Linked DNA regions of Homo sapiens. The protein of the gene in region 4 interacts with the protein of the main gene of each other region in a pairwise test. Each region holds a gene or a part of one and is shown on either strand. Other genes may lie near its edges.

Region 1 (7,054 bases), on a different chromosome or scaffold from region 4:
AGGGAAACCTCATCTCTACAAAAATTTAAAAACTAGCCAGGGTCAGCTGCCATGGCTCACGCCTGTAATCTCAGCACTTTGGGAGGCTGAGGTGGGAGGATTGTTTGAGCCCAGAAGTTCGAGACCAGCCTGGGCAACGCAGTGAGACCTTATCTCTAAAATAAATAAATAAACAAATAAACACTAGCTGGGCACGGTGGCACATGCCTGTAGTCCCAGCTACTTGGGAGACTGAGGTGGGAGGATCTGCTTGAGCCAGGGGGGTCAAGGCTGCAGTGAGTTGTGATTGGGCCACTGCACTCTAGCCTGGGTGAGAGTGAAACCATGTCTCAAACAAAAACAAAAACAAAAACCAGCTATAAAAGACACCTGGAAGCCAGGTACAGTGGCTCATACCTGTAATCCCAGCATTTTGGGAGGCTGAGGCAGGTTGATCACCTGAGCCCAGGAGTTTGAGACCATCCTGGGCAACATAGTGAGACCCCATCTCTACAAACAATTAAAAAATTGTCTCTGCTACTTGAGAGGCTGAGGTGAAAGAATCGCTTAAGCCCAGGAGGTTGAGGCTGTGGTGAGCCATGTTCATGCCACTGCATTTCAACTGGGTGACAAAGAACCCATCTCTAAAAAAAGTAAAAAATAAAACTAAAAGACACCGGGAACTATTTGGGGAAATCTGAATTTGGAATGGATGTTAATAACATTGGGGGATTATGTTATTTTATTTGTTTATTTAAAGACAGTCTTGCTCTGTCACCTAGGCTGGAGTGCAGTGCTGCAATCTTGGCTCACTGCAACCTCCACTTCCCTGACTCAAGTGATCTTCCCACCTCAGCCTCCCAATTAGCTGGGATTACAGGTAAGCACCACCATGCCCAGCTAATTTTTGTATTTTTGGTAGAGACAAGGTTTCACCATGTTGCCCAGGCTGGTCTTGAACTACTGGGTGCAAGCTATCCACCAGCCTCAGGCTCCCAAACTGATGGGATTACAAGTGCGAACCAACATGGCAGGCCAGATTATAGTTATTTTTGTGAAATATGATAAACTTATTGTGGTTGTGTAGAAAAAGGCCTTTTTTAAGGGGAGATGTATGCAAACATTTAGGAGTGAAATGTCTTGACATTTGTAATATACTTTAAAATAGTTCAGCAAAGAAAAATTGTAAAGCAAAAGATGTTAATTATATGGATGTTATTATGGTATTTTTTCCTGCTTTTCTTGAATAAAGCTGTGTTTCTACATGCACTGTATATGTATGTAAGCAGGACAACTACATGTATGGTGACTATAGCTGGTTAGCTCCAGGGAAGACTAGAATTGGGCAAATGAATAAAAAAGGCAGATCAAACAAGATCGGCAAGAAAACAGAAACACAGCAGAATACATAGATGGTGCACCAACCTTAACATATTCAATGGCTCTTGGAGAAAAATCACAGGCATAGGCAAAGATATTCGGATCTTCTTCTAAAAGTGGGAATAAACAGTTTCCAACCCCACAGCCAGCTTCAAGCATTGTTAACTTTTGATCTTCAAACTGGGGAAAGACAGCTCAAAGTTATAGTATATCACATTTGCATAATGAAGAAATAAACCAAACTAAAAGGTCCAGAATATGAGAGGTCTCCGACCCCATGGAGCAGACGATCAACAAGAGAACTAATAAGCAAAAGCTAATACTGGTACTTCATTTGTCATCCAACATTAACAATTTGGTGTGGAGGAAAAAAACAGCACAATGGCTAACTCGGCTCTGGAGTTAAACTGCCAGCACCCAAATCTCAACTCCTCCCCTGCATTCTATCCTTGGGTAAATCACTTAAACAGCTCTGTGCCTCAATTTTACCTTGGGGACAAATGAGTACAATACTAATACTTACACTTCACAGAGCCGGTATAAGGGTCAAATGATAGGCCATGTAGAAAACAGCCATGGTAAATAGTTACTAACATTAACTATTATATTATTCTGAATCTGTCACTGAAGTCACTTAGCATGAATTTATATTTTTGTTTTTAAAATTTTTAATGTTTAAAATTTTAAAATTCAGAACATAGGGTCTCACTATGCTGCCTAGGCTTGGCTAATTCATGTTGACTATTCACAGGCACAAGCCGCCTGCCTCAGCCTCTGGAGTAGCTGGCAATAGCCACCAGACCTGGCTCTTGAATTTAATATATAATGTTTACAACTATCAGATCAGCTTAAAGAAATAGAAAACACCCACTAAAGTTCTCTCTCCTATATGTTAACCAAACCAGAAACTGCTAAAACTTTGGTGTTAAGACCAAACAGTATATTTCTCTCCTAAAACGCAAAGCATTTTGATAGGCTTCTTAAATTCTCTACTTCGCACTCTCCCTAGGAATGCAATACAGCACACCTCTTCACATTTTTTTTTCTTTTGAGACAGAGTCTCGTTCTGTCACCAGGCTGGAGTGCAGTGGCACAATCTCGGCTCACTGCTATCTCCGCCTCCCGGGTTCAAGCGATTCTCCTGCCTCAGCCTTCCAAGTAGCTGGGACTACAGGCGAGCACCACCACACCCAGCTAATTTTTGTATTTTTAGTAAAGACGGGGTTTCATCATGTTGGCCAGGATGGTCTCGATCTCTTGACTTCGTGATCCGCCTGCCTTGGCCTCCCCAAGTACTGGGATTACAGGCATGAGCCATGGCACCCTCTTCACATTTTAAATGAAGAACAGCTCAGATAAGGCGTAATATTAGCTTACCTCTCTACATGATCTTAGCTCCTCAAACTCTCTGGTGGTCCAGTGTCTGTCTTTGAAGAAATTAGTGCTATTTCTTTTGTAAAAAAGATCCCAATTTTTCTGAGCCTCTTGTTCCAATTTCTGCTGTTTAAAATCAGACACCAAAGTTTGGTCTCTTTTCAGTTTCTCCTCTTCTTCAGAGGTGAGAATCCTTGCCTGCAGCCCTTTCCTTTGCAAAGAAGCCATCTCTGAAACTGACGGTAACACTTAACACAGCTGAAGATTCTCCATCACCAAATAATATGAATCCACGCTAATGGATCAGATACATTTCCTGAGGTGAGTTTCACGCCTCAAACAGCACAGGGGGCTTCGCAGAGAAAAGAATTAGATTCTGGTTAGTGGTTACAGTTCAAGACGCCAGGTTCAATTCACCAAATGTTTATGAGATGCAGACTGTACAAAAAAAAATCCTTCCCGCTATATGAGAGGTCACAAAGAAGACAAACACACAGTCCCTACCTTCAGTGGGCTTACATTCATTTCAGTGGCCAGACTATCTCATGCACCATACTTTTATTCAAACCAGATGAGTCAACTATTACAATAAATCGATTTAGTTTACGAAAAAGGACGCTCTCAAGAACTGACTGGGAAACCTTGCGAAGAAAATATTCCTCAATTTTCGGTGCCCGCGAAAGGGGTGACTTAAAAACCACAATGGCCTTAGCTGGAAGCGGGTGGTCAATTGTCAGATACAAGTGAGGTCATCGTTTCCCAAGGGTCGGACCTCCGTTTTTTCGGGGGAAATGAAGCTAAGCCTGGGTGGGCTCATTTCCTGATCACACTCACAAGAGGCTGTCATAGGAACCAGAGGGAGCGTCACTTTGCAGGGACTGAGACCCTCGCACCGCCATCACCGGGCAAAGTGGAGAAAGAGACCCAATGACGCGTGGCTGAGGTCCCGAGGATCCATCTCAGGACCCTCAGGATAGACTAGGCTGCATGGGCCCCTAGACCCTGAGGAGGGCGTCCATGATGGCTAGCCGACCCGCGTTAATTTAGTCAGCCACGCTCAGGGCTCACCGTCATCAGTTCCTAAATTCACCTGCAGGGCTAGGGCCAGGCGCACTCACCCCACAGCCAGCCCCACTGGGCCTCGGAGGCAGAATACGGGAAGAACCGCGAAACAACCCTAAACCAATTCTGAGGACCACGAATTCGGATTATCCGGGAGTTCTTTTGCCATGGCACCGCCCCCGCCACTTCCGCTAGGAACCCGGAAGTTCCTACCCGACGCCGGAAGTCCCACGGCCTTGCCTCCTCAGATTCCTCTCTCACCCCCACGCAGAGGAGAGAACTTGCTTCTGGACCCGGGTGGGTGCCGGCTCGGCTCTCCTTGTCTTCCAGAGCGGTGGCCCGGAAGCACAGTCCTCCCAGACGCCAGCGCCAGAAGCTCGGATCGCGGCTGCACCGGGAGAGCGCCGATCTGGGTGCGAGGCAGGTGCGGGGCCATGAATGGGACCGCAAACCCGCTGCTGGACCGCGAGGAACATTGCCTGAGGCTCGGGGAGAGCTTCGAGAAGCGGCCGCGGGCCTCCTTCCACACTATTCGTTGTAAGTCAGCGCTCCCCACGGTTCCCTTCGGCCGCTCCAGCCGCCACATATCAACCTTGACTCCTTCCTTTCTTCCCTCGGCCCTTCAGATTCCAGGGAACCCCCTGCCAGCGTCAGTTACTTTCTCTCGAACCCCAAATCCTTTGGGACATCGATTTGTCCCTTCTTTTACCCAGATTATTTCTCCCAAATCTTCGTCACTCCCTACTATTCTTCTACCTCACAGTCTCAAACACTAGTTCCAAAGGTCTTTGGCCTCTTTCCATTTCCATCCCTCCCCGCCCCCAACCTCGCCCCTAAGGCAAACCTCCCTCCCCCAAGGCAAACCTCCCCCCTCTTATCCGGGTCCACTTCTCCCTCGAAACCCCTCCCCTCCTTTCCGATGCTCCCATCAGGGTTCTCCACATTTAAAAGACGCTTCTTGTTTGTTATGAGCCTCATCCACTGCCTTAGAACCCATTCTCTTCCCTGCTTTTCTCCTCCGACTTGGTCCTGGACTCCCAAATACTGTGCTTTGTCCCCTCTACAGCCAAAGAATTGGCATCCTCTCTGCGCCTCATCAGAGTCTTCTTCCATCTCCTTTCTGTGCTTCATTTGACTTGGATGTCTTTTGAGGTCACCTATACCACCCGGGCTTTTCCTCCAGACCAAGTTCCTTGTGGGTAAAGAGTCAAATCAGAGTTCGTGAGCCTGGGATAGGTTAAAGATTGGTCTACGTTTGGAAGCAGAAGAGAGCAGGCGTAAGGAATGTCCAAATAGTCATTATGCCGGACCTTTTTCTACATAATTATAGACGCTGTTGAGAGAGTGCACTTCCACCCTATGTCCTGGGTGAAGGTTTGGCAGTTAGGAATTGGCTGACAGAGCATCCCTCCGTGATTCATGAACTTCTGGTTTCCGTGGTGCTAACGCTGTTGTTAAGACTTGTTTTTGTCAGAGGACCTAATAGATGTGACTCAACACATGTGAAGAGGGCGTTTTAGATAATGAAATCCCATCTTTGTGTAGTCACTTGCCATGCCATTGCTATGCTTCCTACTGACAGCAGATCCAGCTCTTTCAGAGAGAAGAGATGGGAATAAGATAAGAACATCATTTCCTGAAGAGTTTACTAAGTTGATGTTTTCTTTTGGTGAAGGGCAATGTGGAATTTAAATCATATAGTTCATGTGTGCACCTGTCCTGCAGTTTGAGGCAGGTGTGAATGTGAATTAAGATGGCTATTATGTTGTATTCTAACTGCAGTTTAGAAACACGAGCAGGATAACTTGCGGAGATACAGTTCAGTTGTCTGCTATGAACATCTACGAAGTGTCTTTGTTAAAGCTGTGGAACTGGCTGAGAGTGGTGGCTGACACTATAATCCCAGTACTTTGGGAGGCCGAGGTCGACAGATAGCTTGAGCCCAGGAGTTTGAGACCAGCCTGGGCAGCATAGTGAGACCCCATCACTATTAAAAAAAAAAAAAAACAAAAAACAGCTATGGAACTTGAGTATGGCAAATCCTAATTTTGACAGTTTCTATGCGGAATGAAATCAGCTTTTGATGATGCTGTGGCCTTTCATATTTCATATAGAGTTTACAGTCACAGAATCTGTTTCATATGCTGTTACTTTTGATCCTCACAACCCTAAAAAAGCAACTTATTATGGATGATGAGACAATTTTCCTCTCTCCCTTGGGAGAAGGGAATATCTTTGTTTAATAAAATGGCCTGTAAATTCTTTTTTCCCTCTAGAATAATCAAAAGGGGGTCAGAGGAAAAGTATGTGGAGGTGTAGATGAAACAAGATTGTCCCTGAGTTGGTAATAATTGAAACTGGATAATGGTATACCAGGTCTCATTGTACGATTCTCTCTACTTTTGTGTATCTGAAGTTTTCCATAACGAAACAGTTTTTTAAGAATTCTAAATTATTTTTATTTTCCATTCATCTGAGTAATAATTTTAATTCTTAAATGGAGATGCCCAGGAAACCCTTATTATAAGTAACCTGGTGGGTAAGTGCTTTTTTTCCTTTCCCTTTAGATGATTTTAAACCAGCATCTATAGACACTTCCTGTGAAGGAGAGCTTCAAGTTGGCAAAGGAGATGAAGTCACAATTACACTGCCACATATCCCTGTGAGTTTATTTCATTTTTTTTTTTAATGTAAGATCACAATGAATCTTTGTCTTTTATATTATTGCAATTTAAACTTCCTACTTTTAAAAATGTTTAGATTTCTAAAGTGGCAACTTAAGGAAAAAAGTAATTTTGGGGAGTGGGGTGGGGTGGACTTCATGCTAGGCAGGTGCTTGATTAAAAATAATTCTTGTAATCCTAGCATTTTGGGAGGTGGAAGTGGGTGGATAGCTTGAGTTCAGGAGTTAAAGACCAGCCTGGGCAACATGGTGAAACCCCGTCTGTACCAAAAATACAAAAAATTAGCTGGGGGTGATGGCACATGTCTGTGGTTGCAGCTGCTTGGGAAGCGGAGCTGGGAGGATCGCTTGAGCCTGGGAGGTAGAGGTTGCAGTAAACCAAGATCACGCCACTGCACTCCAGCCTGGGCGACAGAGTGAGACTCCCCCTCAAAAAAAAAAAAAAAAAGATTATTCGTCGTTTTCCCCAATCTTCCTTTTCCCCCATCTGCTACTGAGTAGACAAGGTTCCTGTCTGGACACCTAGCCCCTCTTTTAGATATAGCTTTTCTCCCAAGCAACTCCAGACAGAAAAGC
Region 2 (7,835 bases), on a different chromosome or scaffold from region 4:
ATGGAGGCCTCCCGGAGGGGTGAGATTGGAGCCATGACCTATGGCAGACAAGAGGAGCCTGCCATGTGTAAGTAGAAGGAGAAGGCCAGGTGCGGCAGCTCACGCCTGCAATCCCAGCACTTTGGGAGGCCAAGGAGGGCAGATCACCTGAGGTCAGGAGTTCGAGACCAGCTTGGCCAACATGGTAAAACACCAACTCTACTGAAAATACAAAAATTAGCCGGGCGTGGTGGTGCACGCCTGTAATCCCAGCTACTTGGGAGGCTGAGGCAGGAGAATCGCTTGAAGCCAGGAGGTGGAGGTTGCAGTGAGCTGAGATCACGCCACTGCACTCCAGCCTGGGCAACACGGCAAGACTCTGTCTCAACAAAAAAAAAAAAAGAAAGAAAGAAAGTAGAGGGAGAGAGTTCCAAGCAGGGGCAGCAGTGTGTGCAAAGGCCCTGGGGTAGGAACGAGCTTGGCTGTTGGAGGAGCTGAAATATATCTATGGGGCTGCATCTCTGTGGCGTCCTATCCTCTCTGCACACACGTTTACTAACCACCATGATCTCAAGGCAGGCACTGGCTGGAGGGCTCTAAAAGATCCAAAGCTTAATCCCAAGTGGTGAGGCGAAGGAGGGTTGGAATGGTCAATGTCTGAGCCAGGACAATGTCTAAGACCAGTGATCTGGTCTTAACACCGGACGAGTCACCTCTGTGGATGCCAGGCACTGCGTCCTTCAGCCATGACTGGTGTGTGGGGTCACGCAGGGGGTGCTCACCTCATGTTGAAGGGGGCCATCAGCCGCACCACGTACTGCCGGTCTTTGGGGAGCTTGAGTTTGGGGATCTTTGATGGGTCAAAGTCCGGCGGGTAGTATTTCTGCAGGGGAGGAAGGAAACGTTGGGGGAGTTATTTTCAGAAGCAGGGGCAGGACATGGCAGAGGGAAGGGGCTCTGGGGAGCTGTGTCGGGGGTCCCCAAGCCCACCCCAGGTTCCGCGACAGGCAGGGAGGACTCGCAGGACTCAGTACAGTCAGAGGGAGGCCAGGCACAAGCTTCCTGACTCTCTCCTAGTGGAGTTATACAGGACGCATTTAATTCTCCTAAATACCAGTCATGACAATACACATGAAATGCTGTCTACACGGGAAGCTCTAAAAAGCCAGGGTTTGTTTTTGTTTTTGTTCTGAGACGGAGTTTTGCTCTTGTTGCCCAGGCTGGAGTCCAGTGGCGCGATCTTGGCTCACTGCAACCTCCGCCTCCTGGGTTCAAGCGATTCTCCTGCCTCAGCCTCTACAGTAGCTGGGATTACAGGCGCCCACCACCACTCCCCGCTAATTTTTGTATTTTTAGTAGAGATGGGGTTTCACCATGTTGGCCAGGCTAGTCTCGAACTCCTGACCTCAGGTGATCCACCTGCCTTGGCCTCCCAAAGAGCTGGTATTACACACGTGAGCCATCATGCCCTGCCCTTTGTAGAGGTTAAGCTTTGCTTAGCACTTCTGTTGTTCAGGCAGGAGACCGAGTTCCCCGAGGAGTCCCAACTCCCCAGCAATTCTGTAGAGGGTAAACCAGGACTCTGTTAGCTCAGCCTCCCAATCACGATACTACATCCGTTTCCTACAGAGTCATCTCCCTGGATCTGAATCCTGAGGAGCTGAAACCTGCAGGGCTCAGTTTACTCCTCTGTGAAATGCGCACACTGTCCTCTGTCTCCAAGAGTCTTTGCACGCATTCCTTGAGGCAAGGGGGATAAAGTGCTCTTTGCAGTGTCTGGCACCCAGTAGGTGCTCCAAACACAAAGTGCTTTATTTTCCAGTGGTGCAGTGGAGGTATCTGTCATAATCCATACTCACACTCCCTTTGTATCCCAGGGCTCCTGTTTCCCAGGAGTTCCTACAGCAAGCCTGAGACTGCTCTCCTAGAAAGACCTGCGTGGGGCCGGGCGCGGTGGCTCACGCCTGTAATTCCAGCACTTTGGGAGTATGAGGTGGGTGGAATGCCTGAGATCAAGAGTTCAAAACCACCCTGGGCAACATGGTGAAATCTCATCTCTACTAAAATACAAAAAAAATTAACCAGGCATGGTGGCGGGCGCCTGCAGTCCCAGCTACTCAGGAGGCTGAGGCAGGAGAATCGCTTGAACCCAGGAGGCAGAAGCTGCAGTGAGCCAAGAACGTGCCACTGCACTCCAGCCTGGGAAGCAAGCGCAAAACTCCATCTCAAAAAACCAAAAAACAGAAGTGTGCCAACAGTATAGTTTATACTGAACCTCTGCTTTTCTTCTGGGAGTCTGGAATCTTGGCCACTGTCAGGCAGAGGTTATCTGCATGACCAGACCCCAGTAAAATCTTGGCCACTGTAAGGCAGAGGTTATCTGCATGACCAGACCCCAGTAAAAAAAACAAAACACACACACACACACACACACACACACACACACACACACACACACACACACACACACACACACACACACACACACACACACACACACACACACACACACACACACACACACACACGCGCCACCCCACCCCACCCCACCCAAAGTACACGATTGGTTACAGTCCCCAAGTGGGGCGGGGCTTCTCAGAGCCACGCCCCTCAAGAAGAGGGCAAAACACGGCCGCCAGCATTTAAGGAAGCCCCGCCCCCAGAAAAAAAACCCTATCTGGTGGTGATTGGGTAAAAGCCCAAGCCACGCCCCGCAGGTGACTAACTACACCCCAGCCCAGAAGGGAGACTTAGCGAAGGCCCACCCCCCCGACGGAAGGCGATGGGGAGGAGTCTAGGGAGGAGTCTGGGAAGCCCCATCTCGCGGAAGGCCGCTGGGAAAGAAGGGTTCCAAAGAAGAGATCTCAGGAAGCTCCTCCCTCTCCCGGAGTTCCGGGATGTCCTGCTCCGATTGAAAAGCCCCAGTCGCCCAACACTTACGTTTAATACTTTTCGCTCCGACATCTTTGCCTTCTGATCACCTCGCAAGCACCTGAGAAATGGTTAGGCTGGGTAATTATCGAGCTTTTCCGACGGAAGCCTTACTTCCGCAAACGTCACTTCCTTCGGCCGCTATTATTGGCTGCAGCATACACAGCAGACCTCTTTCATTGGTTCCAATCCCCGCCTATCAAGCTGGAAGTCCCAGCGTCTTCCCTCCGGAGTTGCAACCTGAGTAGCGCGAAATAAGGATTCCGGGAGCCATGTGGAATTGGAGAATTTTGTATAGTGCGCTGCGCCCCCTAGAAGCGGGCAGCGGCTCGTTAAAATTTTGTAACGTGACCTCTTGTTCTTCATTCTTTTATTCAGCAAATATGTATTATGCGCCTGCCTTGTATTCTGGGCTCTGGGAATCCACACATCGTTCCTGGGCCCGCAACTCTCACATGGGGTTGGGGCCACACATAGGGTGACTTAAGAGGACCCTGGACGACTCTTGAGTCACAGACATTGACTTAAAGATCAGGCTCCAAACCAACTTCCTAAACATACGCAGTGTCTCCCAAATGTCCCTCCATTGCCCACCTGTGCCTTCCCCTTAACGAGGACTTCCCATCCCATTCCTTCCCCAGCCTCCTTCCCCAGCCTCCTCCCCACCTTTCATGGACGTTTCCTCTGTGTCAGATTGTTCCAGGAAAGGGGTCCGGATCCAGACCCCAGGAGAGGGTTCTTGGATCTCGTGCAAGAAGGAATTCAGGGCGAGTCCACAGTGCAAAGCAAAAACAAGTTTATTTAGAAAGTAGATGAATAAAAGAATGGCTACTTCACAGACAAAGCAGCCCCAAGGGCTGGTGGTTGCCCATGTTTATGGTGATTTATTGATGATATGCTAAACAAGGGGTGGATTATTCATACCTCCCTTTTTTAGACCATATAGGGTAACTTCTTGATGTTGCTGTGGCAATTGTTTGTTTATTTATTTATCTTTTGAGGAGTCTTGCTCTGTTGCCCAGGCTGACGGGCAGTGGTGCGATCTTGGCTCACTGCAACCTCTGCCTCCAGTGGTGCGATCTTGGCTCACTGCAACCTCCACCTCAGGATTCAAGTGATTCTCCTGTCTCAACCTCCCGAGTAGCTGGGATTACAGGCACGCACCACCACACCTGCCTAATTTTTGTAGTTTTAGTAGAGATGGGGTTTCACCATTTTGGCCAGGCAGGTCTCGAACTCCTGACCTCAGGTGATCTGCTCGCCTCTGCCTCCCAAAGTGCTGGGATTACAGGCATGAGCCACTGCACCTGGCCAAAAATCAACTCCATCTTAAAATTAACAAGGCACATTCGCTGCCAGTCACGAGCCAGGGTCATAAGATGTTTACAATTGAGAAAACGTCTTACAAATGCCTAGGAGGACACACTACTACAACAATGGAAGGTCCAGATGTCCTGATATTGCATAGCAATGTATGCTTTTAAGATCGTTATAGTCGCCAGGCGCGGTGGCTCATGCCTGTAATCCCAGCACTTTGGGAGGCCAAGGAGGGTGGATCACCTGAGGTCAGGAGTTCGAGACCAGCCTGGTCACCATGGCCACCATGGTGGAACCCCATCTCTACTAAAAATACAAAAATTAGCCGGGCGTGGTGGCGGGAACCTGTAATCCCAGCTACTTGGGAGGCTGAGGCAGGAGAATTGCATGAACCCAGGAGGCTGAGGTTGCAGTGAACTGAGATCGAGATTGTGCCGCTGCCCTGTGGCCTGGGCGACAGAGTGAGACTCCATCTCAAAAAAAAAAAAAAAGAGAAAAAAAAGAAAAAGATACCGGGCATGGTGGCTTACGCCTGTAATCCCAGCACTTTGGGAGGCCGACGTGGGCGAATCACCTGAGGTCAGGAGTTCAAGACCAATCAGACCAACACGGAGAAACCCCGTCTCTACTAAAAATGCAAAATTAGCCAGGTGCGGTGGTGCAGGTCGAGAGTTCAAGACCAACCAGACCAACATGAAGAAATCTTGTCTCTACTAAAAATACAAAATTAGCCGGGCATGGTGGTGCATGCCTGTAATCCCAGCTGCTTGGGAGGCTGAGGCAGGAGAATCACTTGAACCTGGGAGGCAGAGGTTGCGGTGAGTCGATATGGCGCCATTGCACTCCAGCCTGGGTGACAAGAGTGAAACTCCATCTCAAAAAAAAAAAAAGAAAATATGGTTATAGTCATGGTGTAATGTACTTAGGCACTAAAATGGCAAGGATATGTATGTATACTTTTTGAGACAGGGTCTCGCTCTGTCACCTAGGCTGGAGTGCAGTAACGCAATCATGGCTCTCTGTGGCCTCCACTTCCCGGCTCAGGCGATCCCCCACCTCAGCCTTCCGAGTTAGCTGGAACTATAGGTACCACCACACCTGGCTAATATTTGGCAGTTTTTGTAGAGACAGGGTTTCGCCATGTTGCCCAAGCTGGTCTGGAAATCCTGGGCTGAAGTGATCTGCCGGCCTCGGCCTACCAAAGTGTTACAATTACAGGTGTGAGCCACTGCACCCAGCCAGGATAACTTTCTTTAAGTCGACAAAGTACTACGTTTTGTCACGCGGTCAGCCCACCTACACGTGGACATAGCTTTCACACAGATAAGACCCCTATATAAGAAAAAACCGGTTGTACATGGTGGCTCACACCTGTAATCCCAACACTTTGGGAGGCCGAGGTGGGAGGATCACTTGAGCTCAGGAGTTCAAGGCCAGCCTGGCCAACACGGTAAAACCTCGTCTCTACTAAAAATATAAAAATTAGCTGGGCGCAGTGGTACATGCCTGAATCCCAACTACTCAGGAGACTGAAGCAGGAGAATCGCTTGAACCTGGCAGGTGGAGGTTGCAGTGAGCCAAGATCGTGCCAAGATCGTGCCATTGTACCTGGGTGACAGAGCAAGACTCCATCTCAAAAATAAATCAATAAATAAAATAAAAATAAAAACCTTAAAACAAAGACAAGGCGTTCCTCCTCTTGTTTTCTGAGGACGCCCTACTTTGTAACTGAGTAGCCTTCCTTTTTTTTTTTTTTTTTTTTTTTTTTTGAGGAGTTTTGCTCTTGTTGCCCGGGCTGGAGTGCAATGGTACAATCTCGGCTCACCGCAACCTCCGTCTCCCAGGTTCAAGCTATTCTCCTACCTCAGCCTCCCAAGTAGCTGGGATTAAAAGCATGTGCCACCACGTCCGGCTAATTTTGTATTTTTAGTAGAGACGGGGTTTCTCCATGTTGGTCAGGCTGGTCTTGAACTCCTGAGGTGTTCAAGAGGTGATCCACCCACCTCAGCCTCCCAAAGTGCTGGGATTACAGGTGTGAGCCACCACACCCAGCTAGGGACCCCTTTTCCTGGCACCAGGAAGACAATAATATGGGACAAGGAATGGTGTTAAATAAAGTTTACAGGAAGCCATGGGTTTGGACTGAGCTCCTGCACTAGGCCCAAAAGACTAAACCAAAATGAAGTCCCTCATGCGGAAGTTTTACACCAAGCTGAAACTAAGTTGTTTTTCTGGTTTTCCAAGAAATCGAGAACTGGAAGGAAGTGGGGAGAGAGAGAGAGAGAGGGAGAGAGAGAAAGAGAGGGAATAGTCAAATCCATGAACAGAGGCAGGCAGATCACCTGAGCTCGGGAGTTCAAGACCAGCCTGGCCAACATGGCGAAACCCCGTTTCCACTAAAATACAAAAAATTAGCGGGGTGCGGTGGTGGGTGCCTGTAATCCCAGCTACTTGGGAGGCTGACTCACGAGAATTGCTTGAACCTGGGAGGCGGAGATTGCAGTGAGCCCAGATCATGCCACTGCACTCCAGCCTAGGCAACAGAACCAGATTCTGTCTCAAAAAAAAAAAAAAAAAGGCCAGGCACTGTGGCTCATGCCTGTAATCCCTGCACTTTGGGAGGCGGGTGGATAACGAGGTCAGGAGATTGAGACCATCCTGGCCAACATGGTGAAACCCTGTCTCTACTAAAAATACAAAGATTAGCTGGGCAGGGTGGCACACGCCTGTAGTCCCAGCTACTTGGGAGGCTGAGGCAGGAGAATCGCTTGAACCCGGGAGGTGGAGGCTGCAGTGAGCCAAGATTGTGCCACTACACTCCAGCCTGGGTGACAGAGCGAGACTGTCTCAAAAAAAAAAAAAAAAAAAAATCCCTGAACAGGCCTGTTTTAGCCAGCACGATAGTCTCCTTTGCTCTAAACTTGACAAGAAAAGTAACTTTGAAAAGACCAATCCACTTTTTGTTTTCTATTTCTGCTTTACTCAGCCTTTTTCTGTCTATAAAACCAACCTCTTTTTCAGTGAGCTGAGATCACCACTGCACTCCAGCCTGGGCAACAAGAGTGAAACTCCGTCTCAAAATAAATAAATAAAACCTGCTTTGCAAAAGTGGAAGGTTTGGCCGGGCATGGTGCCTCATTCCTGTAATCCCAGCACTTTGGGAGGCTGAGGCGGGTTGATCATGAGGTCAGGAGTTCAAGACCAGCCTGGCCAACATGGGGAAACCCCATCTCTACTAAAAATACAAAAATTAGCCGGGTGTGATGATGGGCACCTGTAGTCCCAGCTACTTGGGAGGCAGAGGCAAGAGAATCATTTGAATCCAGGAGGCGGAGGTTACAGTCAGCCAAGACCACGCCACTGCCCCCCAGCCTGGGTGACAGAGAGAGACTCTGTCTCGGGAAAAAAAAAAAATGGAAGGTTTAACAGACTTTAAAAAAGAAAGAAAAAGAACCCCTAATGTTGTCTGCTCAGCTCATGGAAACATTCTGAAACTGGTCCAATTGTTCCATAAAACGAATACTTATGATTATTTGAATAAACACAGAAATGGATCCTCCCTAGTCTTAAAACTTGAAACTTACATTTGTCTCATCTCAGTTCCTTCC
Region 3 (7,026 bases), on a different chromosome or scaffold from region 4:
GATGGATGACCTAGGGGGATGAAAACACATTTTGTCAGTGTCAAGTTTATATCAGCAGAGCCACCCTGTGCTCCTAAGTCACACCTCGCAGGAATGGGAGGCAGAAAGGTTGCATTTAGAAGGAAAGGATTAGCTCTGGAAAGTGAGTTTGGACATTGAGGCTCCCCAGATCCATAGGGATGATGGATGTTGGCAAGGACAATGGTCACAATATAAGTAACAGATACCGATAACACTGCCTAGCATTTATTGAGTGCCCACTATGTACTAAGTATTGAGTAAATGTTCCAGAGCTGTTATCTTATGGTGGTATTTCTTAAATTTCTCATAACGATCCTATGAGGTAGGCTGCTTCACTGTATTTCCTCGAGTATACAAAGCCATCAATTCAATAAAAGCTTTTCACATCAAAACATATTAAACTTACACAACGAAGTTTTGTTGTGTCATGCTTTTCCTAACAAAATATAGAACATATTCATAACATAACCTCTTTATTCTTCAGGATGATAACGCAAGTTTGAATCGAAGCCTAGATATTCAGAGTCACAGAGTCTCCATGCACAACTGCTAATTGTAAAAAATATATATATAATAAAATTAAAATTAAAAAACAGAGTCAGAAAGTTTCTGGCTCCCTTTCAGCTGTGCCCATGCAGTTCTCCATGTCCCACCTGGGATTTCTTTAGCCCCTTTAGGATGGATGGTATAATTTAGAGCTCAGCGAAGAACAGAGGCTCCTTCCACATCTCCTGTTTTATTAAACTTGTGGCTTTCCCCTTCTTAATTGGATATCTGTCTTTTGACTAAGAAATACTTCACAGTGCATGACAATCACCAACCTTTCCTAGCTTTGAAAATTGTGTGATCTAAACTTAGAGATTTGCCTGAATCTGCACATGTGCTGGCACTGACATCCCAATTTCTCCTGTCTGGTGACTGACAAGGTTGTTATTGTTTAAGCATTGATTATTAGATGCTATCCTATTACTTTAAAAAAAAAATGTGCCCAGTCCGGTGGCTCACGCCTATAATCCCGGCACTTTGGGAGGCCTAGGCAGGTGGATCACCTGAGGTCAGGAGTTCGAGACCAGCCTGGCCAACATGGGAAAACCCCATCTCTACTAAAAATACAAAGATTAGCCAGCCAGTCATGGTGGTGCTCACCTGTAATCCCAGCTATGTGGGAGACTGAGGTGGGAGAATCATTTGAACCCGCGAGGTGGAGGTTGCAGTGAGCCAAGATCATGCCACTGCACTCCAGCCTGGGCAACAGAGTGAGACTCTATCTCAAAAAAAAAAAAAAAAAAAGTTTAAGGGTGTCTTAGAATTAGTTTGTAACACTGAAGGTTAAAGATATTAAACAGTTTACCTTCCATGTCATAGCTGGCAGGTGATGTAACTAGAATGCACACCAAGTCGGCTGGGTACTTCTCAACATTAAGGCTGTAATGACTTTCTCCTTCTTTCTCTCTTGAATCTTCTCAATGAGGCCTTCCTTCCACCATTCCTCCAAAACTGCTCTTGTCAAGGTTACCAAAGATCTCCACATGGCCAAATGCATTGACTAATTCTCAATTGTTATCTTACTTTCAGCAGCACTTGACAACTTTTTTTTTTGAGACAGGAACTCAGTCTGTTGCCCAGGCTGGAGTGCAGTGGCGTGATCTCAGCTCACTGCAACCTCCGCCTCCTGGGTTCAAGCTATTCTCATGCCTCAGCTTCCTCAGTAGCTGGGACTACAGGTGCGTGCCACCATGCCCAATTTGCCTGGCTAATTTTTTATATTTTTAGTAGAGACGGGGTTCCACCATGTTAGCCAGGCTGGTTTCAAACCCTTGACCTCAAGTGATCTGCCCACCTTGGCCTCCCAAAGTGCTGGGATTACAGGCTTGAGCCATTGCGCCTGGCCATTTGACACCATTTTTAGGAAACAATTTCTTGACTTGGCTTTCTTAGGTCTTCTATATCGACATCACCCTGAAAACCTTCTCTGCTGCTCTTTTTCACTTCTCCTAACCTGCCTGACCTCCAGATGCCGAGTGCTCCATGTTAACCATCCTCAGGCCTCTCTTGTCTTTCTGCATCCGCTCTTTGGTGACCCCATCTAGTCTCATAGCCACTTCCACACTCCCAGCTCTGACAAGTGCATCTGCAGCTCCCAGCAGCTGCCCACTCACCCTCCTGCCTACTCTCCATCACTCCCTGGATGCCAAATAGGCTTTGCAAACTGAATGTCTTCAACCAAACTCCTCTCTTTGGCATTGTCCCTGACTCCTCTCTTTCGCTCACTCCCTACATCTGATCCTTTAGCAAGTCCTGTCAGCTCAACCTCAAAATTACATTGAAAACTGTTTTTTAGAGACAGGGTCTCACTGTGTTGCCCAGGCTGGTCTTGAACTCCTGGCCTCAAGTGATCCTCCTGCCTTGGCCTCCCAAAATGCTGGGATTACAGACGTGAGCCACCACCACATCTAAATCCACAACTACCACCCTAGACTATTAGCCTGTAATTGGCCACCACTTCTATCCCCCGTCTCCTCAATAAGCTTCTTCCCCACCCGGAAGCCAGAGTGACCTTCCCCAACCTAAGGCAGATCAAGGTGTCAGCTGCTTAAAGCCATCCAGGGGCTCCTTGTCTCAACCCAAGCAAAGCCAGAGCTCTTTGAGCTGCACAGCCTCCTTGTTCTCTGATGTCTGCTGGCTCCTGGTTTCTGTTTCTCCTTCCCAGCCTTGCTAATTGTTCTCCAGCCAGGCTGCTTCCCATGTGGGTCTCACACAGCCAAGCCCCCTCTGCCTCAGGGACTCAGGCTTTTATACTTGGGGTTTCTTCTGGTACCCCTCTCCCCCTAGATTTTCATATGACTTGCACCTCATTTTCTTTTCTTCTTCTTCTTTTTTTTTTTTTTTTTTTTTTTTGAGTCAGGCCCAGGCTGGAGTGCAGTGGCACAATTGTGGCTCACTGCAGCCTTGATCCCCGGGGCTCAGACGATTCTCCCACCTCACCCTCCCAAGTAGCTGGGATTACAGGTGTGCACCACTACGCCCGGCTAATTTTTGTATTTTTAGTAGAAATGGGGTTTCTCTAAGTTGCACAGGCTGGTCTCGAACTCCTGGACTCAAGCAATCTGCCCACCTCAGCCTCCCAGAGTGCTGGGATTACAGGTGTGAACCATCATGCCTGGCTGCCCCCTCATTTTCTTGAAGCCTTTTAAAATGCTACCCTAACAAAAGAAGACCTTCCTGCATAAAACAGCCACCTCCCAGAATTCTGTTCTGTCCTCTCTGCTCCAGTTTCCCCCGCAGCACTGGTACCCGCAGCACTGGTACCCGCAGCACTGGTACCACTTGCTATAGTATACATTGGTTTGCTTCTGGCCTCTCCACACCACTGTAACCCTAAGTTCCAGGAATGCAGGGACTGTGACTGTTTTAGTCACTTGCTGGGTCCCGAGTGTTTAGAGTAGAGGCTTGCATGAAGTGGGCTCCCAGTGAATGTTTGTTGAATTATCAGACAAAGGAAGAAGGAACGGAGCACCCGGTGGTGGAGACAGTGCTGGGCTCTGACATGTGTTTCTCTACTGCCCAGATCTGGAAGTCGGAATCAGCACTGTGCTGTGACCACTCCCACCCACGCTGACTTCTGTCTTGTGTCTTCTTCCAGGTCTACGGCTCTCGCAGGCTCTGTGAGGGCTTTGCTATGACCTCAGTCCCCTCACGGAGCCACGACTGCCCCTTGCTGCCACAGCCTTTCCAAGACCCTGCCCGGCCCTGCCCCATCCTCAGCCCCGAGTCACCATGGGCAGCGTCAGTAGCCTCATCTCCGGCCACAGCTTCCACAGCAAGCACTGCCGGGCTTCGCAGTACAAGCTGCGCAAGTCCTCCCACCTCAAGAAGCTCAACCGGTATTCCGACGGGCTGCTGAGGTTTGGCTTCTCCCAGGACTCCGGTCACGGCAAGTCCAGCTCCAAAATGGGCAAGAGCGAAGACTTCTTCTACATCAAGGTCAGCCAGAAAGCCCGGGGCTCCCATCACCCAGATTACACGGCACTGTCCAGCGGGGATTTAGGGGGCCAGGCTGGGGTGGACTTTGACCCGTCCACACCCCCCAAGCTCATGCCCTTCTCCAATCAGCTAGAAATGGTAAGCGGGGGTCGCTGGCAAGGGTAAGTGGGTTGGAAACGCAGGAGAAAGCAAAATGGGGGTGGAGAGCCTGGGGGTTCAGGGGGAGTGGTGACCTGAGCATTCAGACTCCTCAAAACCAGAGCGGCAGGGGTGCCGGCGGAAGCCTGTGGCCACACCGCAGAGATCAAACGTTTCACAAAGGAATTAGAGCATCGCTCAGTCCCCCTGAAGCAGAAGTCTTGGGTCAGGCCATAAGCAAAGAGCACAGGGGATATGTGAGCTTTCTGGAGTCCCACTGAAATGTAGCTGGATTGTCAACGTAGGATCCAGGCGTTTGCCAAGCCTCGGGAAGGAGAGGGAGCCCTGTTCTCATCTGGAAGCACAGATGAAGAGGATGCAGGCCGGGAGTTAACCGCTTCTCTCCCCGGGAGACTCGTGGGGGTGGGTGCGGTCTTCTCATTTGCTGCCCTGGTGTGCATTAGCTCCTTGTTCAAGCTGCGCCTGGGGGCATCTTTGAATACAGGCTGGAGTTTTGTCATCCATTTACCAGAGATTAGGGCAAAGGAGGCCCAGGCACTGAGAAATCCAGCCCTCACACCAGCTCAAGCCCTCGTGCGTCCCACGAGTGGACACTGAAATCAATTTTCCTATTCAGTCCTCTGCCCCTTGCCCTGGGGAAATGAATCCCCGGCTTTGATTTACTAGGAAAGAGCCTCTTATGTTTGCATAGAGCATTCAGCTTTTCAAATTAAGGGGCTTGTAAACTGTGAAGCACTCTACCAGGGAAAATTACAGTTTTAAAAAAGGATCGTGATTTGGAGTGAGCCTCCCAACCCTGTAAGGAGGCCAGGTCCGTGTCCTTGCTCCAGGCTTAATGGAAGAGGCAGTGAACAGGAAGAAGGGATGGACCTAAAGAGGGACAGCAAGCTCGGCCAGCCTGATGCCCTAACTTGCCCCACACAGAGACCTAGAGCAGGAGCCTCAAGATGGTATTTATCACCTCGGGAGGGCTGGGGCAAGCTGGTGGCAGGTTGCTATTTCATAGAACAAAGTGCCCAAGTCGCCATTAGGGTTTTTCCTTCCTAAGAGAGATGACATTCAGCTGCTTCAAAGCAACAGGCAAGGTCTGCTGAGACAATTGACCAAGAGGGGTGCTGCGTGCGCTCAGAGAGCCCAGACTGGCTCAAGGTCGGCACGCGTGCCTGGGGAGGGAGGGTGCAATGCGCGCGCAGGGGAGGCATGAGTCACCGCGGTCCTTTTCCTCTACAGGGCTCCGAGAAGGGTGCAGTGAGGCCCACAGCCTTCAAGCCTGTGCTGCCACGGTCAGGAGCCATCCTGCACTCCTCCCCGGAGAGTGCCAGCCACCAGCTGCACCCCGCCCCTCCAGACAAGCCCAAGGAGCAGGAGCTGAAGCCTGGCCTGTGCTCTGGGGCGCTGTCAGACTCCGGCCGGAACTCCATGTCCAGCCTGCCCACACACAGCACCAGCAGCAGCTACCAGCTGGACCCGCTGGTCACACCCGTGGGACCCACAAGCCGTTTTGGGGGCTCCGCCCACAACATCACCCAGGGCATCGTCCTCCAGGACAGCAACATGATGAGCCTGAAGGCTCTGTCCTTCTCCGACGGAGGTAGCAAGCTGGGCCACTCGAACAAGGCAGACAAGGGCCCCTCGTGTGTCCGCTCCCCCATCTCCACGGACGAGTGCAGCATCCAGGAGCTGGAGCAGAAGCTGTTGGAGAGGGAGGGCGCCCTCCAGAAGCTGCAGCGCAGCTTTGAGGAGAAGGAGCTTGCCTCCAGCCTGGCCTACGAGGAGCGGCCGCGGCGCTGCAGGGACGAGCTGGAGGGCCCGGAGCCCAAAGGCGGCAACAAGCTCAAGCAGGCCTCGCAGAAGAGCCAGCGCGCGCAGCAGGTCCTGCACCTGCAGGTACTGCAGCTTCAGCAGGAGAAGCGGCAGCTCCGGCAGGAGCTCGAGAGCCTCATGAAGGAGCAGGACCTGCTGGAGACCAAGCTCAGGTCCTACGAGAGGGAGAAGACCAGCTTCGGCCCCGCGCTGGAGGAGACCCAGTGGGAGGTGAGGCCACACAGGGCTCATGGGTTTGGGTGGTCAGCGGTTTGGCGCCAGTACCCCCCTCTCCTTCTGGTGCCGGCCAATAGCGTGCAAACACAGACCGCGCAGGCAAGCGGGGCTAATGTGCTGGCTTTATCACCCAAAGAAGGGGCTCCCTGCAAACCATGTTGGGGGATCGACTTACATCTGAGCTTCCTCCTGTCCCCACCATCACCCTCATGGCTCCTAGATTTCAGTTTCCCAAGTGAGCCATTAAATCATGAAGCCGGAAGCCAGATGACCAAGGCCCAGCCAGGCTGTGGGCTGACCTCCCTTCCATCAGCTCCCAGGAGGCTCAGAAGAAGAACAAGCCGTGCCTGAGTTCAGGCGGGGCCAGGGGCCCAAGAGAGCACAGAATGCATTTGTTGCTTTGGAGGGAGGGACTGCACCCACTAGTAAGAGGGACCCTATTGGTGGCAGGTTTCAGTGATGGAAGTGGCCACTCCTTGCTGAAGTGTAAGTGGAACTTCTATTTGGTGAGCTGAGATGGAAACCTAGGAGAGGAAGTAAAGAGTCCCCCACTCACACACTTACACACTCACACACACTCACTCACCCGGTCACACGTGGAAATGAGGCATCTGTACCTGACCGTGCTGGAGAACCCCATAACCTCTGCATCTATTAGTGGGAAAGCAGCTTTTCTCACCAGCCTGGTGGTCTGGATGACTCATGGAGTTCAAGCCCATCGTTGAGGCTCTTTACATGCTCGCACCCAGCTTGGTCTGTCCACGTGCCTGCCTCACCCCCAGTTCAGAGTCCAACTCTCAGTCTACACGCAAACCCCTGGCT
Region 4 (5,807 bases):
AGCTGGCAAGAATGATGGGAGGTTTTCCAGAAGTGACTATGGGCAAAGCCACGGTTATTCAGAACCCTGATAAGGGACCAGGGCACACAACACAGACGCTCCGTGGAGTTGGACAGGCCCACTCTGTGGGTGAAGGTTTGGTAGTTATTGACCCAGAAAGCCACACACTTTTTTTTTTTTTTTTTTTTTTTTTTTGAGATGGAGTCTCGCTCTGTCGCCCAGGCTGGAGTGCAGTGGCACGATCTCGGCTCACTACAGCCTCCGCCTCCTGGGTTCATGCCATTCTCCCGCCTCAGCCTCCCGAGTTGGGACTACAGGTGCCCGTGACCACGCCCAGCTAATTTTTTTGTGGTAGAGATGGGGTTTCACCGTGTTAACCAGGATGGTCTCGATACCCTGACCTCATGATCCGCCTGTCTCAGCCTCCCAAAGTGCTGGGATTACAGGTGTGAGCCACCACGCCCAGCCAGCCATACACAATATTTTAAGTGAAAACCACAGGTTATAAAACAATACAAATAGTATAATCCACTTTATAAGTTTTTAAACAAATATACTTATGCATAGAGAAAATCTGGAAAAATATATGCCAGCTATAAAGTGGTTCTTGCTCATGGGATAAATTGTGGGAGACTTTTTCCCTTTTTGCTTCTCTGTGTTGTGATTTCCTAAAGACAGGGCAGTGGTGTCCCTAGACTGCTCTGGAACTGCAGGACCTAACAGCCTCACTGTGTCTGCTCACCCAAGTCTGACAGGTGGCAGGGCAGTGTCTGAGGCCCACTGGGATGCAGACCCAGGAAAGCTGGGGTGGGGGGCTTCTGGTCCCCATCTCTGCAGCCTCATCCTCTCCCCAGCTACACAGACCCAGATGGTCACTGTCCTGGACCAGATGAAGGCAGGCACCTACAAGCTCACCTTCGACACTGAGGGCTACTGGAGGAAGAGGGGGCAGGAAAGCTTCTACCCACATGTGGAGGTGAGAGCCCCAGTGGGCTGGAGGGGGCTGAGGCTCATGACTCACTGGGATCTGCAGGCCAGGTCCTGCTGGCCGGGCATCATTTAGGCAGTGGGCAGACTGGTCCTGGGCGGTGGCAGGTAGGTGAGCTCACTTGCTTTGAGCTCCCAAAAGAAAGGTGTCCAGGCAGCAATAGACTCTACGAGGACACACCCGTCACTCACCTGCCCAGGGTCAGGCTTTGTGGGGAGGCTGGGCCAAGGGTGATTCATCCCCTCTTTGTTGACAGAGGTTTTCATCTGAGCCAACTCCAGCTCTCTGGGCCTAACCTCACTGCCTCACCCCACACTGGAGCCGCCGCAGAAGCGCCTGACTTACTGGGCTGTGGCTTCTGTGGAGTGTCCCTCTGGTGCGGAAGGTTCACCCCATCCCAGACCCTCAGTCTGGGCTGCTGAATTCTCTCAGGTGTGTTGGGGCCAGATAGGTGGTTTGCTGCTATCCCCTTATACTCTCTCCTGGCCTCTCCATCTCAGGTTGTTTTAACCATCACCAGCAAGGCCCAGAAGTTCCACGTGCCCCTGGTCCTACATCACCTACCGAGGGAGTTAGAGCGAAGACTGGCAGCGGGAGGCTGCCTGCCCGTTCCCGCACGCTGGCTGCACCCACCCAGCCCTCAACAGAGCGGGCTTTGTGCTCATCAGGGAGCATTGGCTCACCACTTCCTAGGGAAGTCCCGGCCCCCTGGAGAATCCCACTGGGCAGCTGTGACTCAGGTGTCAATGAAGTTAGTGCCAGCACCTGCAAAGCTGTCCATTCGGTGGGACAACAGTGGCGCGAAGACAGGCAGCACAGCGCGGCACTGCCCCAACCCCCAGGTGAGTGCGGGGCACTCTGAGAAGGTGCCGCCGACTGTGGTCGGAGGTGAGACCAGGGAGTAGGCCTGGACACAGGCTGGACGTGCGGCACCCAGGGAAGGGAGCGACAGGGACACCATGGGTGAGGGTCCTGCAGGTGGTTCTCCTCCACAGAGCCAGGAAAGAGGATGGCAAGAACATGTGAAAAGCTTTCATTTGCTGATGATAAAATCTAAAAAACTTGCTGTCCTTGGTGTGATAAGGGGTGTCATCCCGAGTGTTCCTAGGCTGGTTCTCTGGGCTGTGGCCCCCCAGGGGGGCAGCTACGTCGGGGTGCCCACCAGTCCCGCGGGGCCCTGGCCCAGTGTCTGTCCGATCACAGCTGTTTCCAAGGGCTTGAAGCCCACGTTGTCCAGAGGGATCCCGAAGGCCAGCAGCTTTGCCTCATACGTGCGCAGCAGGTCGTTATGGGCCTGTGGAGACAGGGCAGTGTCAGGGAGCTGAGGGTCCCCACGCTCAGGACCACCAGAGCTGAGTGCAGCTCCATGGAGGGGCAGCGTGAGCATCACGGTGCAGAAGGATAAAGCCAAAGGCTTATCAGTCATTTCCCGTGTGGGACACAGCTCCAAGCACCTTCACTGCGTTGGCTCAGGTAGCACGACAGGGAGAGGCTGTCACTATTCCTATTCCACAAATGACGAGACGGAGGCAGAGGGCAGGGACACTCAGGGCAGAGCTGTGGTCTGGGAGGGCTCTGGGCCCTGGCTGGGTGTTTCCCACTCAGGTTCTTCACGCCCTCCCTTCCCCTGTTGAATGACGTCTGTTTCCTTCCCCGGTGGGCACAGCACCTTCTGACTCCCTGCCCAGGGGAAGGGGCTGACCAGGGAAGCGTCCAGGTCCCCCCCTACACCCATCCCAGCAGAGACATGGCCTAGACAGCAGTGCACTGCCCCAGACCACACAGAATCCAGATGCTCTCGGCTATGACTGCACCCTCACGTGGGGACAGTGACAGCTGCCTTGTCAAACGAGGTACGAAGTGGGCACAGGTGGGGTCCTCAGAGACCGTCTGCATTTAGAACAGTCTGGGCACCGAGGGGGTGCCCCTGAGGGAGGGCAGGGCACAGCCGTACCTTACAGACCTGGGCCAGCTCATACTGCAGGTCCTTGATGGTGCTGTTCTTCGACTCAAGAACATCCTGAGGAGAGAGAGGTGATGGGAGTTTGAGACTCATCTTTTGGCCGAGGCAACGGGAGCGGCCTGGGGACTCCAGTGGGCGTTCTGAGAGATCCAGCGAATAGCAGCCTGGTTTGATGGATGCATCCATCCACACAGGGTTGTCAGCAGAAAAAGGTCTCCAAGGGTGGAGAGAAAACAAGGAAGAAGCAGAGAACTGGGAGCTTGCACAACCTGCCTCTCCAGCAACAGTCCAGGCCAGGCACTGCCGCTCACACCTGTGATCCCAGCAGTGTGGGAGGCCAAGGAGGGCAGATCACTTGAGGTCAGGAGTTTGAGACCAGCCTGGCCAACGTGGCGAAACCCCGTCTCTACTATACGAAAAGTAGCCGGGCACGGTGGCTCACACCTGTGTAATCCCAGCTACTCAGGAGGCTGAGGCATGAGAATTGCTTGAACCTGGGAAACGGAGGTTGCAGTGCGCCGAGATTGAGCCACTGCACTCCAGTCTGGGTGACAGAGCAAGACACCGTCTCAAGAAAAAACTCAAAGAGCAGTCCAGACCACAAGAAATGCAGATGAGGTGAGGGCAGGCAGCGTGCAGCCACACTGTGGAGACTGGTCACTAAACACCACCTACATATTGCTTAAATTTCTTGAGGCTTGTGAATGTACTATCTCACTTTTTTTTCTGAGATGGAGTCTCGCCCCGTTGCCCAGGCTGGAGTGCAGTGGCGCGATCTAGGCTCACCGCAACCTCCGCCTCCCAGGTGCCAGGAATTCTCTGCCTCAGCCTCCCAAATAGCTGGGATTACACCCGCCACCAAGCCCAGCTAATTTTTGTATTTTTAGTAGAGACGGGGTTTCACCATCTTGGCCAGGCTGGTCTTGAACTCCCAAACTCGTGATCTGCCCACCTCAGCCTCCCAAAGTGCTGGGATTACAGGCGTGAGCCACCGCGCCCGGCTATCCCACTTTTTTGTAACAGAAAAAAGTAGTCTTCAGCAGCGCTGGCCCCGCCCAGATGTGGGCAAGGGTCTCACCACGTGGCGAGGCAGGGACTTCTTGGGCTCCTGCCTGTGGGGCACTGCTGGGCCCAGCCTGGCTTTAGAGCCGTCCCTGCTGCCCACTGACACAGCAGCCCCCTCACACCTGGCCAGCAGCAAACAGTGTCCCTGCGGGGGCCTCTGTCATTTCCCCAGAAGATTCCTCACTTAGAAGTCGAGGTAACAATGACCAGGAAAGGAGGGGTTGACCCACATTTAGCTCCATCCTCCATCCTCACCCTGGCGCGTGGGCGCAGCTGCAATGACCCTCACAGGCCACGACTGCTCTCTTCACCCTCATTTCGGTGGCTTAGCAGCAGGCTGGGTGCAGCCCTCAGCCAGGAGCTGGAAACACGCCTCCCCCACCTCCCAACAGTGGGACCCTCACTCCCTCACCTGCCTGTGCTCACTGGGCCCAGTGCTGAGCAAACAAAGATGAGTTTTCAGTCCCGGGGCCACAGTGCCTCTGGCCCAGGTGAGGCCCCTCCTATACAGCCTCACTACCTCAGGCCCTGAGAGCCAGGCCATCCCAGATGACCAGGGTCCCACAGGCACCACCGCCCACTGGGCCGGGACCCGTCGTTCCCCCATGTGCAAACACCAAGTCACCTCGGCCCCTCCCAGCCCCACCTGTGGACTCAGCCTCCTGGCGGCTCTCCAACCCTCTGCCCGTCCCCATTCTGTGCTGGCCCCAACCAGCCCCCTCCAGCCCTGTGCTCCCCATCAATAGCAGAGTGGGCCCTGATCTGGTTCCCCTGCCCAGCCCTTCCACAGTTCCCAACTGGCCCGAAACTGGCCACAGGAAACCCATGAATGCCCCTCCTCAGTGGCCGACCGAGGGGTCTCTGTGCCTATCCGAGGAGCAGCACAGAACTGAAGACTCTTGCCACAGGGATGAGGCCGCCCACTGGGGTCAGGAGCCTGTCTAGGGCCTACCTCCAGCTTGCGGGACACCAGCGTCAGGGCTGCAGGGTCCAGGTTAGAGGCAGCCAGGACCTCGTTGAACTGCACCTCCTTCTTCTCCACAGCGGCGCTCAGAGCCTGCAGCTTGCGTTCTAGCACGAGGTTCTTGAACCCTGTCTTCTGCTGCACCTCCTGGATGGCTGCGGTGAACTTCCGATAGAGCTCGTCCCGCTCCTGCTGCACCTGTAGGGACAGCGCTGGGGGTGGGCGATGAGGCCCCTCACCTGGGGACATCTCGCTGGGAAGATGCTGCCTCCCACCTCTGCACCTGCCTGGAACACGCTGCCTCCCAACAGTGCCCACTCCCACAGCACCGGGGTCAGTGTGTTGTCCACACTGCCTGCGCCCTGGCCCTTTGTAGAGCCATCCACGCAGTGGAAGGCAGGAGGAACACATCAGCATAAGCCCTTCTCTCAGGAAGGTGTCTCTGGAAGCCATAAGTGTCCTGGTAAGAGCTGAAGCAGCCCCACCCTGAAAGCTGCTTCATGGGTGGCCGAGGCCAGTCTTGCCCGAGTGAGGGCTGTGGGCTCAGGTGAGATTTGAGATCCAGGGCATCCAGCAGGCCGAGCTTGCAGGTGGGGCCCCTTGGAGGATATGCTCCCTTGGCCAGCCCCAGATCCTGGCATCACATGTGCTGTCCGCCCCACAAATGGTGGATCTGGAGCACGGCCTTGGAGCCAGCTACCTGCCAGCCAGTAAAACTGTTCTTTTTTATCTCCTAATTCTTCTACTTATTAATTGTGCATTCTAAAAAAATCTAGACTTTGTTGAAGACTATAAAAAAGTGAACACCCTGAGCAGCGTGTGGTGGC

The links.
Region 1: the proteins of DRC4 (region 4) and EAF1 interact in binary tests that used the Homo sapiens proteins (3 or more experiments, as listed by UniProt).
Region 2: the proteins of DRC4 (region 4) and YJU2 interact in binary tests that used the Homo sapiens proteins (3 or more experiments, as listed by UniProt).
Region 3: the proteins of DRC4 (region 4) and LZTS1 interact in binary tests that used the Homo sapiens proteins (3 or more experiments, as listed by UniProt).

Annotation. Positions count from the first base shown.
Region 1 is NC_000003.12:15,423,551-15,430,604, forward strand, and holds the start of EAF1 (ELL-associated factor 1), read left to right. Parts: upstream 1-4,047; 5' UTR 4,048-4,229; coding exon 4,230-4,332; intron 4,333-4,771; exon of another isoform or gene 4,772-5,077; intron 5,078-6,362; coding exon 6,363-6,457; intron 6,458-7,054. Other genes in the region: tRNA N(3)-cytidine methyltransferase METTL6, read right to left, coding at 1,405-1,539, 2,737-2,961. UniProt on the Homo sapiens protein: Acts as a transcriptional transactivator of ELL and ELL2 elongation activities.
Region 2 is NC_000019.10:4,242,255-4,250,089, reverse strand, and holds the start of YJU2 (splicing factor YJU2), read right to left. Parts: upstream 3,011-7,835; 5' UTR 2,944-3,010; coding exon 2,920-2,943; intron 863-2,919; coding exon 762-862; intron 1-761.
Region 3 is NC_000008.11:20,251,954-20,258,979, reverse strand, and holds part of LZTS1 (leucine zipper putative tumor suppressor 1), read left to right. Parts: intron 1-3,664; 5' UTR 3,665-3,798; coding exon 3,799-4,143; intron 4,144-5,394; coding exon 5,395-6,198; intron 6,199-7,026. UniProt on the Homo sapiens protein: Involved in the regulation of cell growth. May stabilize the active CDC2-cyclin B1 complex and thereby contribute to the regulation of the cell cycle and the prevention of uncontrolled cell proliferation. May act as a tumor suppressor.
Region 4 is NC_000016.10:90,039,671-90,045,477, reverse strand, and holds the end of DRC4 (dynein regulatory complex subunit 4), read right to left. Parts: intron 5,718-5,807; exon of another isoform or gene 5,179-5,717; coding exon 4,969-5,178; intron 3,009-4,968; coding exon 2,943-3,008; intron 2,577-2,942; exon of another isoform or gene 2,283-2,576; coding exon 2,133-2,282; 3' UTR 518-2,132; downstream 1-517. UniProt on the Homo sapiens protein: Component of the nexin-dynein regulatory complex (N-DRC), a key regulator of ciliary/flagellar motility which maintains the alignment and integrity of the distal axoneme and regulates microtubule sliding in motile axonemes.